Regions from separate parts of the Homo sapiens genome. Here region 2 is linked to region 1. The links come from fine-mapping of genetic effects on gene expression. A gene starts in region 1. The other region holds a variant in brackets. All regions are shown on one strand. Distances are from middle to middle.

Region 1 (5,378 bases):
AGGCAGAGGCAGGAATAAAGCTTGAGCCCAAGAGTTCGAGACCAGTCGGAGAAACATAGCAAGATCCTATTCTCCACAGAAAGGAAAAAAAAAAAAAACCCACAAATTGTAAAAGTAGATTATCTAAAGAAACTTTGGCTTTAGTTTATATTTAATTTCCAAGGAATTAAATATTTAGCACATGCATTATCTAATCTATCCTTGTATTTGCAATCAGGGAAACAAAATGTACCCATTTTGTAGATTAAGGAATTAAGACATATAAAATGGAATGACTTGCTCTAAACTGGGTAGTGTATCCTTTAGGATTAGATTTAGCTGTGACAGAAAATCCAGAATAATAGTTGCTTACAAGGTCAAATTTTATTTCCCATGCAAAAGTCCAGAGGGAAGCAGTTCAGGGCTGGTAGATCAACCTCATAAAATCATCAGATTCCTGTACTGTTGATCTGCCAATCTCATCACTCTGTAGACTTGGGGTCTCAGGGTAGCTGCACTAGCACCAGCCGACACATTTGTATTTCAGCCAATAGGAAGAAGCAGATATCTTTCCTTTTAAACAGCTTTATTGAGATGTAATTCACATGCTGTGCAATTCACCCATTTAAAGTATACAATTCAGGCTAGGCCGATGGCTCACTGTAATCCCAGCACTTTGGGAGGCCGAGGTGGATCACCTGAGGATCAGGAGTTCAAGACCAGCCTGGCCAACATGGTGAAAGCACATCTCTACTACAAATACAAAAATTAGCCGGGAGTGGTGGCACATGCCTGTAATCCCAGCTACTCGGGAGGCTGAAACAGGAGAATCACTTGAACCCGGGAGGTGGGGGTTGCAGTGAGCCGAGATCGTGCCCCGGCATTCCAGCCTGGGCAACAAGACTCTGTCTCAAAAAAATAAATAAATAAAAATAAAGTATACAATTCAATGGTTTTTAGTGTATTTATAGGGTTGTGCAACCATCACAATTTAACTTTAGAAAATGTTTGTCCATTCTAAAACCTCACATGCCTTAGCAGTAACTCCCTAGCCCAGTCCCAAGCAACTACAAATGTACATTCTGTCACTCTCTATTTGCCTATTCTAGACATTTGACATAAATGGAATAATACAATTTGTAGTCTTGTGACTGGCTTCTTTTACTTAGCATACTGTCATCAAGGTTCATCTGTGTTGTAGCATGCATTGGTCCTTCATTCCTTTTTCTTGCCCAACAGTAGTCCATTGTATGGATATACCACATTATATTTATTCATTCATAACCTGATGGACATTGGCTTGTGTCCTCTTTGGCATATATATATACACACACACATTATATATATATGTATATATATATGAATGCTGCTAATGAACATTCATGTTCAAGATTTTATGTGAACATGTTTTCATTTCTGTAGGGTGTATACACCTAAGAGTGGAATTGCGGGTCATGTGGTAATTCCACGTTTTACTTTGAGAAACTGCCAAACTTTTCCAAAGGACTGTCACTAGTTTCCATTCCCACTAGCAGTGTATAGGGGTTCTGATTTCTCCACATCCTCCCCAATACTTGTCTCATTTTAATTACAGCCACCCTGTGGATATGAAATGGTGTCTCACTGTAGTTTCGATTTGTATTTCCATGTGCTTACTGTTCATTTGTATATCTTTAGAGAAATATCCAAATTCTTTGCCCATTTTAGAATTGGATTGTCTTTTAATTGTTGAGTTGTGAAAGTTGATTCCAATACAAATCCCTTTTCTCCCATTCTGTGGGTTGTCTTTATACCCACTTGTTGGAATCGTTTACAGCACAAAGGTTTTCATTTTGAAAACTTTTGTAGTTCATCCAGCTTGTGCTTTTGGCGTCCTAAGAAACAATTGCCTGGCCCAATATGATGAAGAGTTGCTTCTGGGTTTTTTGTGTTTGGTTGGTTTTGTTTTTGTTTTTGTTTTTGAGACAGAGTCTCCCTCTGTCACCCAGGCTGGAATGCAGTGGCACGATCTTGGCTCACTGCAATCTCCGCCTCCCGGGTTCAAGCGATTCTCCTGCCTCAGCCTGCCGAGTAGCTGGGATTACAGGCATGAGCCACCGTGCCTGTCCCTTGCTCCTGTTTTTTCATAAGTTTTACATTCTAGGTCTATGATGCATTTTTAGTTAATGTGTACCCCTGTTACTGGTGGAAGGTATCTGAGTCACGTGGCACCAAAATATGTCAGCAGGAGTGAATCTATATGGGTCTGCAGCAACCTCAGTTCCTGCCTCCTCAGAAGAAAGAATTCCACTGAGGGGCATAAGGCAGAAGGAGAGACTGAGGCAAGTTTTAGAGCAGGAATAAAAGTTTATTAAAAAGCTCTACAGCAGAAATGGAAGGAAGGAAAGTACACTTGGAAGAGGGCCAAGCGGGTGACCTGAAAAAGAAGCGCACAGTTTGACCTTTTGACCTGGGGTCTTATGCATTGGCATACTTCTGGGGTCTTGCATCCCTTCTCCCCTGATTCTTCCCTTGGGAGGCCTGCCTGCATGGGCAGTGGTCTGCCAGCACTTGGGAGGGGAGTGTGCACACTGTGTATACTGGAGTTGTACCCATGCTCACTGGAGGCGTTCTTCCCTTACCAGTCCGGTGTCCTTCGAGGGTCACATGTCAGTTAAACTCCGCAATTTGTGTAAGCCCACTTGCCCAGCTCCTGAGATCTTACCGAGAAGCTGATCACCAGTTTCAGGTTTTCTCTATCTATTGGGAGACTGCCTTTCCCTGGCCCCGCTGGATCAATGATCATTTTAGAGGGAGCATAACAACCGCCTGACTGTCGCCTGATGGTTGCCTGACGTACCTGGTTGGAAGCGTGGCCCTCTCCTGCCCTTTTCGAGGCTGACTAGCTACCTGCTGTCACCCCCCTTCCCTTTTAAGGACTTTTCTGGAATGTTGGCCTGTGCCACCTGCTTTTATTCGCTGGCCAGAACTTAGTTACTGGCCATCCCCGTGGTCTGTATAGGAGACTCGACAATGTATATTTCAGGCGTTGGGCATCATGTGTAGCCGGCGGAATGCCTGTTCAGCCATGGTCCAGCCTGAACGAGCGGGCCTCTTGCTTCATTTTGCAGGGGAGCTGCTGCTTGCCCGCGGTCACCCCAGCGGTCTGGCGGAGCCCTTAGCGCGCAGGGCCGCCGTCTGCGGGCGCTCACGCCCCCGGGGATCCACCCCAAGGAGAACGGTCCTGAGGGCCTGCCGGGCCTTTCCCCCCGCGGATTTTGGTTCTTCGCTGTTTCCCTTTGGGGTGCCCTTCGCGGTTTCTGCGTTTCCCCCGCGTTGCCAGCAGCCACTCGCGCCGCGCCCCTAGCCCAGAACCGCCCCTCCCAAGGGCGATAACCCCGAGGGCAACGGCCGCGGGCGGCGCTGCGGTGGCAATGGCGGCGCCCCCTGCACCAGCCGCCAAGGGGTCCCCGCAGCCGGAGCCGCACGCCCCAGAGCCCGGCCCGGGGAGCGCCAAGCGAGGGCGAGAGGTGAGCGGGGCGGCGGGGACCGGGAAGGGGCTGCGTCCTCGGGGAGCTCCAGGGCGTCGCCTCGCAGCCCCTTTTCCAGCTGGGGGCAGCCCGGAGGGGCTCGGCCCAAACCTGCCAGCTCAGGGGCTGCCCTCGCGGGGTTACACGGCTGGGAGCGGGGAGGCTGGTAGGTGCCGGCGCCGGAAAGAGACTAGGACGGGAAGCCTAGCCCTAGCCAAGGAAGTAACTTGGGGATGCGTGGTCATTGCTGTCCTGATTCCCGGCTTAGGGGTCTTGTCCGTGCCACCGCAGGTCCTCCCGGGGTCCCCGAGCTCTGGGCAGGCAGGGCTTTCTGAAGCGCCTGGGGAGGCTGCGTCCTTCCCGACCTCAGGCAGCTGCTGTGGCCTCGGCCTCCCTCCCAGACCCTGGCCTCGCCCAGGCACCAGGCTCCCCTTGGAGGCAGCCTCAGGGAAGGTCCTGGCCATGGGCTCCGACAAGAAGGGAGGAGGGCAGGTGGGAGCGGCGGGGTCTTCGGGGCCCCTTGTCCCTTGCCCGATGCCGCCGGGCCGTGCTGGCCAGTGGGGCTGTGCTGGACGGAGCAAGGGGCCTGGGGCTTCCTGGGCCTCACTGAACGCGCCTGCTCCCTGCTCGTGCCCAGGGCATTCTGTGGCCTCCCCTGACCACCTCAGCCCCCAGCCTGTTCAGGGCTTCCTACGAGGCACCTGGGAGCACAGGATTGCATCCCACAAGAAAGTGAGGTGAGATGAAGGGGCTCTCCGGGGACTCTCACTTCCCAGGGAAACTTAGAAATTCAGGGTGAGATTAACAGCAAGAGGGAAACACTCGCATTGCTGATGAAGTTCCGGCGTGGAATCCTCTTACGACTCTCCGAGGGGTGGCAGCCCCGGTCACTCCAAGGAGACCGAGGTGCCCTGCCCTGGGTCACGCAGCTAGAGATAGCAGGGCTGCGCCCCTCGCCCGGAGCCGCCCCTCCCAAGGGGCTTCTCCTTGTACAGCTCACTGTACAGCTGTACCGGGCTTTTATGACTTTCGGTAAAACTGTCATCCTCAAGACGGCAAGATGGGATCATATCCCTGGCTTCACTTGGAAGTTCTTTCTAAAGTTCTAAAAACTTGCTAGGCCTGTTTTGGGGGATACAAGAGTCCCCATTAGGGGGAGAGGGGGACTGTCACGTTGAATTCTGCCTGTTCTTAAAGTTTTCTGGAAGCTGAAATGATGTTCACACAAATGTCAGAAAAGAATCATCCTGCCCCCAGTGTGGTTTTCCCCTGTGGGTAGGAAGAGTGTGCAAAGTGTGATAAACCCTTATCTGGGGAGACCTTCCCTTCACAAGAGCCTGCTGGGGTGTCCTGCAAGATGTGGAAATGGGTGAAGCCATGTCATCTCCACTCCCTCCAGCCCCCAGCAAACGATGAGAAAAGAGCCCAGCTTCTTCCAAAGAAACAGCACTTTACACAGGGTCTTCATGGCCATTTATTGCTTCAACGGATATATACTAAGCACCTACTGTATACCAAGCTTTGTTCTAGGTACTGGAAACACCATGATAAATAAAAGGTGGAGTTCATGCTCTCAGAGAGCTTACATTCCTGTAGGGAGAGGCAGGAACTAAATGAAAATATAGCAGGCGGTAAGTACAACTGAGAGAGGTGAGAGGTTAGGGAATGCCTCTTGGAGGAGGTGACATTTAAGCTGGTGACATCAAACCAGAATGACAAGGAGTCACCTTCCAGGCAGAGGAATGGGAAGGGCAAAGGCCCTGAGGCAGCAACAGACTTGATGATTTTGAGGAATAGGAAGGAGCCCGGCGTGGCTGAAGGAGAGCTATTTGAGGTGAGGTGGGTAGGGGGCCGACTGGGTGGACTCCTTAGCCATGATCAGGACTTGGA
Region 2 (5,378 bases), 130 kb before region 1:
TATCTCAAAAAAAAAGAAAAAGAAAAAAAGAACCCAACTTTACAAAAAAATTTTTTTTTAATTAGCCAAGTATGGTGACATGCACCTCAGCAGGCTGAAGCAGAAGAATGCAGTGAGCCATGTTCGCACCAATGCACTCCAGCCTGGATGACCCTATCTCCAAAGAAAAAAAAAAAAAAAAAAAAAAAAAGCAAAATGTATAAATTGGAGTTCATTAAAATTACAAATGGGCCAGGCATGGTGGCTCAGGTCTGTAATCCCAGCACTTTAGGAGGCCAACATGTGTGGATCACCTAAGGACAAGAGTTCGAGATCAGCCTGGCCAACATGCTGAAACCCCATCTCTACTAAAAATACAAAAATTAGCCAGGTGTGGTAGCGCATGCCTGTAGTCCCAGCTACTTGGGAGGCTGAGGCAGGAGAATCGCTTGAACCCAGGAGGCGGAGGCTGCAGTGAGCCAAGACTGCACCACTGCATTCCAGCCTGGGCAACAGAGTGAGACTCTGTCTCAAAAAATGAATAAATAGGCCAGGTGCAGTGGCTCACGCCTGTAATCCCAGGACTTTGGGAGGCTGAGGCGGGCGGATCATGAGGTCAGGAGATCGAGACCATCCTGGCTAACACGAAGAAACCCTGTCTCTACTAAAAACACAAAAAAATTAGCCAGGCGTGGTGGCAGGCGCCTGTAGTCCCAGCTACTCGGGAGGCTGAGGCAGGAGAATGGCATGAACCTGGGAGGCGGAGCTTGCAGTAAGCCGAGATCATGCCACTGCACTCCAGCCTGGGCGACAGAGCAAGACTCCATCTCAAAATAAATAAAATAAAATAAAATAAAATAATAAACTTCTGCTCTTCAAAAGATACTATTGAGAGAATAAAAAAGACAAGCAACAGACTGTCTTGTCTTAAAAATATTTGCAAATGACATATCTGTTAAAGGTCTAATATCCAGAACATATAAGGAATCTCAAAACTCAATAATAAGAAAACAAACAACCCAATTGAAAAAATGGCCAGAGATCTGAACAGACATTTTACCCAAGATTTAACACTGTCAAAAAGAAAAACAAATGAAAAGATGCTCCAACACCATTAGGGAAATGTAAACTAAAACTATAATAAATACCTGTTAAAATTAATTAATTAATCTGAGTATACCAATTGTTGGCAAGAATACAGAGCAACTACAGCTCTCATACACTCTTAGTGAAAATGGTATAACCACTTTAAAAAAGAGTTTGGTAACTTCTTATATCTCATCATAAAACCCAGCCTTTCTACTCCTTGGTATTTGTTAGAAATACAAAAACATATGTCCACACAAAGACCTACATGTGAATGTTCATCACAACTTTATTTGTAATAACCAAAAACTGGAAAGGATCATAATGTCACATAACAAATGAATGGATAAACAAATTGTGATATATCCACACCACAGAATGCTATTCAGCAAAAGAAAAAAAAAAAGGAATACACAGCTGGATGCAGAGGTTCAAGACATCACAGTGCTTTGGAAGGCCAAGGCAGGAGAATCCCTTCAGGCCAGGAGTTCAAGACCAGCCTCGGCAACACAGCAAGATCCTGTTTCTACAAAAAAAATTAATTAGCTAGGCATGGTGGTTGTACACCTGTAGTTCTAGCTATACAAGGAATTGAGGTAGGAGGATAGCTTGAGCTCAGGAGTTTGAGGCTGTAGTGTATTATATTTGTGCTTCTGAACAGCCATTACACTGCACCATGAACAACATAGTGAGATCCCTTCTCTAAAAGATAAACTTTTAACTTTTTCCTTCTGCCAGCAAAAAAAGAAAAAGAAAAAAAGAAAACAACTAAGTTATTGGCCAAGCTGCAGCCGTATACTATTTTTGTGACCTCGGGTAAGTCACTTAACCTCTTGGACCATAAAGATACTCTCCCTAGGCCGTGCACAGTGGCTCACACCTGTAATTCCAGCACTTTGGGAGGCCAAGGTGGGCCAATCACCTGAGGTCAGGAGTTCGAGACCAGCCTGGCCAGCATGGTGAAACCCTGTCTCTACTGAAAAAAATATAAAAATTAGCCAGATGTGGTTGCGGGCACCTGTAATCCCAGCTACTCAGGAGGCTGAGGCAGGAGAATTGCTTGAACCCAGGAGGCAGAGGCTGCAGTGCACTGAGATAATGCCACTGTACTCCAGTCTGGGTGACTGCAGACTCTGTTTTTAAAAAAAAAAAAAAAAAGAGAGAGAGAGATACTTTCCCTAAAGAACTGCTATAAATTAAAGTAAAGTGCTCAGTAAACTATACAGTGTAATGCAAAAGCATGAGCCATATTATTAAACACAAGCTTCTATAAATAAAATGTACATGCTGTATGTAAATCAATGCTGCTACCATGTACTTTGACTTTCTTTCAGTTGCATGTGTGTGCACAGAAGTATATGTAGTAAAAAAAAATACAGTACATAAAACCTATAAGAGATTGCCTTCTTTTAAATTTGGCAATATTAATTTTTTTAAAAGCAGTAGGGCATTTTTAGTAGAGATGGGGTTTCACCATGTTAGCCAGGATGGTCTCGAGCTCCTGACCTCATGGTGGCGGGCACCTGTAGTCCCAGCTACTCGGGAGGCTGAAGCAGGAGAATGGCATAAACCCAGGAGGCACAGCTTGCAGTGAACTGGGATCGCACCACTGCACTCCAGCCTGGGCGATGGAGCGAGACTCTGTCT[CA/C]AAAAAAAAAAAAAGCAGTGGGGCAGAATAAGTTACTCAACTACCAGAAAGAAAAAAGTTATTTAGAGTTGCCTACCTATTGGAGGTGCTTGGTATCGATCCACTGTTTTTCTCTGTCTCAAATTATATGGTCTATCATTTTCTTCTCCTTCTGCCTCTTCAACTTCTATATCTCCATCCTCCTCTTGAGATTCTAGTTTCCCACACACAAAAAGAAAAGAAAAAGGCATTATTTTAATTCAAAAGGATTGGTCTACTCTAGAACTGAATATTTACACTTTATCCATTACTCTTTCTGCACAGGTGACATTTAAGTGCCAACATATTACGTAAAGCATACATAATTAAAAATCAACCTAAATGGATGTAAAAGAAAATACTTTCCCTGCCAATGATCAATACAATTATCTGCTAAATAAATTAATATGATCATATTTTATCTCTTGATTTACTTAGGAACTTTGATTCTCCTTGTTCATACAATGCAATAATAGAAAACAGACTTAAAATTTTACCCAACTACAGCAAACTTCAATCAATGCTCAATTAACCACTAAATAAGATTAGTATTCAAATACCACTTGATAATTCAAAAAAATATGCTTATAGGTAATTACTAATGTTACAGCAAGAGCAACTTTTGTTGGCAGTGTAATGATTTGTTAGGCCTGTTGACCACAGTTAAGCATGGATTAGTTACATTTTGGTAGCAAAGTGCACATAAGCATTGAGAGGGAGCATGAAACAGACTTCTAGGGTATTGGTAATAGTTTATTTCTTGACATGAGTGATCAATTCTTTTTTTTTTTTTTTTTTTTTTTGACACAGAGTCTCTGTCGCCAGGCTGGAGTACAGTGGCGTGATCTGGGCTTCACTGCAACCTCTGACTCCTAGATTCAAGCAATTCTCCTGCCTCAGCCTCCCGAGTAGCTGGGACTACAGGCACGTGCCACCACGCCCGGCTCATTTTTTGTATTTTTAGTAGAGATGGGGTTTCACCATATTGGCCAAGATGGTCTCGAACTCCAGACCTGGTGATCAACCCCCCTCGGCCTCCCAATGTGCTGGGATTATAGGCGTGAGCCACCGCGCCCAGCTATAATTCATTTTTTAAACTGTATACACTTAAAAAATAAATTATAATGTACATAAATCCTAAAAGGTTTTTCTTTTTTTTTGAGATGGAGTTTTGCTCTTGTTGCCCAGACTGGAGTGCAATGGCGCGATCTCAGCTCACTGCGACCTCTGCCTCCCAGGCTCAGGCGATTCGCCTGCCTCAGCCTCCTGAGTAGCTGGGACTACAAGCATGTATCACCATGCTTGGCTAATTTTGTATTTTCAGTAGAGACGGGGTTTCACCACATTGACCAAGCTGGTCTTGAACTCCTGACTTCAGGCAATCTGCCCACCTAGGCCTCCCAAAGTGCTGGGATTACAGGCGTGAGCCAAAATATTATTTTTTAAAAATGATTTGGCAATAGCTATAACATCTAAGTACAGTTAAAATAAGAGTCTAGCTGGACGCAGAGGCACCTGCCTCTAGTCCCAAATACTTAGGAGGCTAAGGCGGGAGGATGGCTTGAGCCCAGAAGTTTGAGTTCAGCCTGGGGCAACATAGCAAGATTCCATCTCTATTTTTTTTTTATTTTTATTTTTTTTGAAACAGAATCTCACTGTCACCCAGGCTGGAGTGCATGATCTTGGCTCACTGAAACCTCTGCCTCTCGGGTTCAGGCGATTCTCATATCTCAGCCTCCCGAGTAGCTGCGATTACAGGCGTGCACCACAATGCCCGGCTAATTTTTGTATTGTTGGTAGAGACAGGGTTTCACTATGTTGGCCAGCCTGGCCTCAAACGCCTGATCTCAAGTGATCCACCCGCCTCAGCCTCCGAAAGTGCTGGAATTATAGGGGTGAGCCACCACACCCAGCCTCTATTTAAAAAAAAAAAAAAAAAAAAAAAAGGCCAGGCGCAGTGGCTCATGCCTATAATCCCAGCACTTTGGGAGGCCAAGGTGGGAGGATCACGAGGTCAGGAGATCGAGACCATCCTGGCTAACACAGTGAAACCCCATCTCTACAAAAAATACAAAAAAAAATAGCCAGGCATGGTGGCGGGTGCCTGTAGTCCCAGCTACTCGGGAGGCTGAGGCAGGAGAATGGCATGAACCCAGGAGGCGGAGCTTGCAGTGAGCCGAGACTGCACCACTGCACTCCAGCCTGGGCAACAGAGCGAGACTCCATCTCAACAACAACAACAACAAAAAAAAAAAGATCTGATGAAAATTAGTAAGCATATGAACGCCCAAATGCAATATGTAACTTTTTAACCACAAGAACTGTCAATACAACACAATCATATTAAAGCATAGAAAAAAATATAAAGCTGGCAGTGATACTTAGGGAAGTAGAAGACTAAAACTGCAAAGGGCTGGACATGGTGGCTTACGCCTATAAACCCAGCACTTTGGGAGGCTGAGGCAGGAAGACTATTTGAGCTCACGAGATCAAGACCAGCCTGGGCAACAAACATATTGAGACCCCATCTCTACAAAAATTACAAAAGATTTAGCCGAGCATGATGGCATGTGCTTATGGTCCCAGCTACTCAGGAGGCTGACATGGGAGGATCGCTTGAGCCTGGGAGGTCAAGGCTGCAGTGAAC

The links. PIP is the estimated chance that this variant, and not a neighbour inherited with it, causes the effect.
Region 2: its variant is the best candidate, but not a certain one, in a credible set for the expression of MFSD2B in whole blood (INTERVAL, PIP 0.76).

The regions. Positions count from the first base shown.
Region 1 is chr2:24,006,705-24,012,082 of GRCh38, forward strand. It overlaps MFSD2B (MFSD2 lysolipid transporter B, sphingolipid), which reads left to right and starts at 3,381. Exons shown (of 14, transcript NM_001346880.2): 1 at 3,381-3,488. The coding sequence starts at 3,393.
Region 2 is chr2:23,877,850-23,883,227 of GRCh38, forward strand. It overlaps ATAD2B (ATPase family AAA domain containing 2B), which reads right to left. Exons shown (of 28, transcript NM_017552.4): 7 at 2,790-2,906. Among named protein-coding and RNA genes, the nearest start is that of ATAD2B, 47 kb to the right of the region's middle. The variant CA/C (reference allele first, on the strand shown) is at 2,713.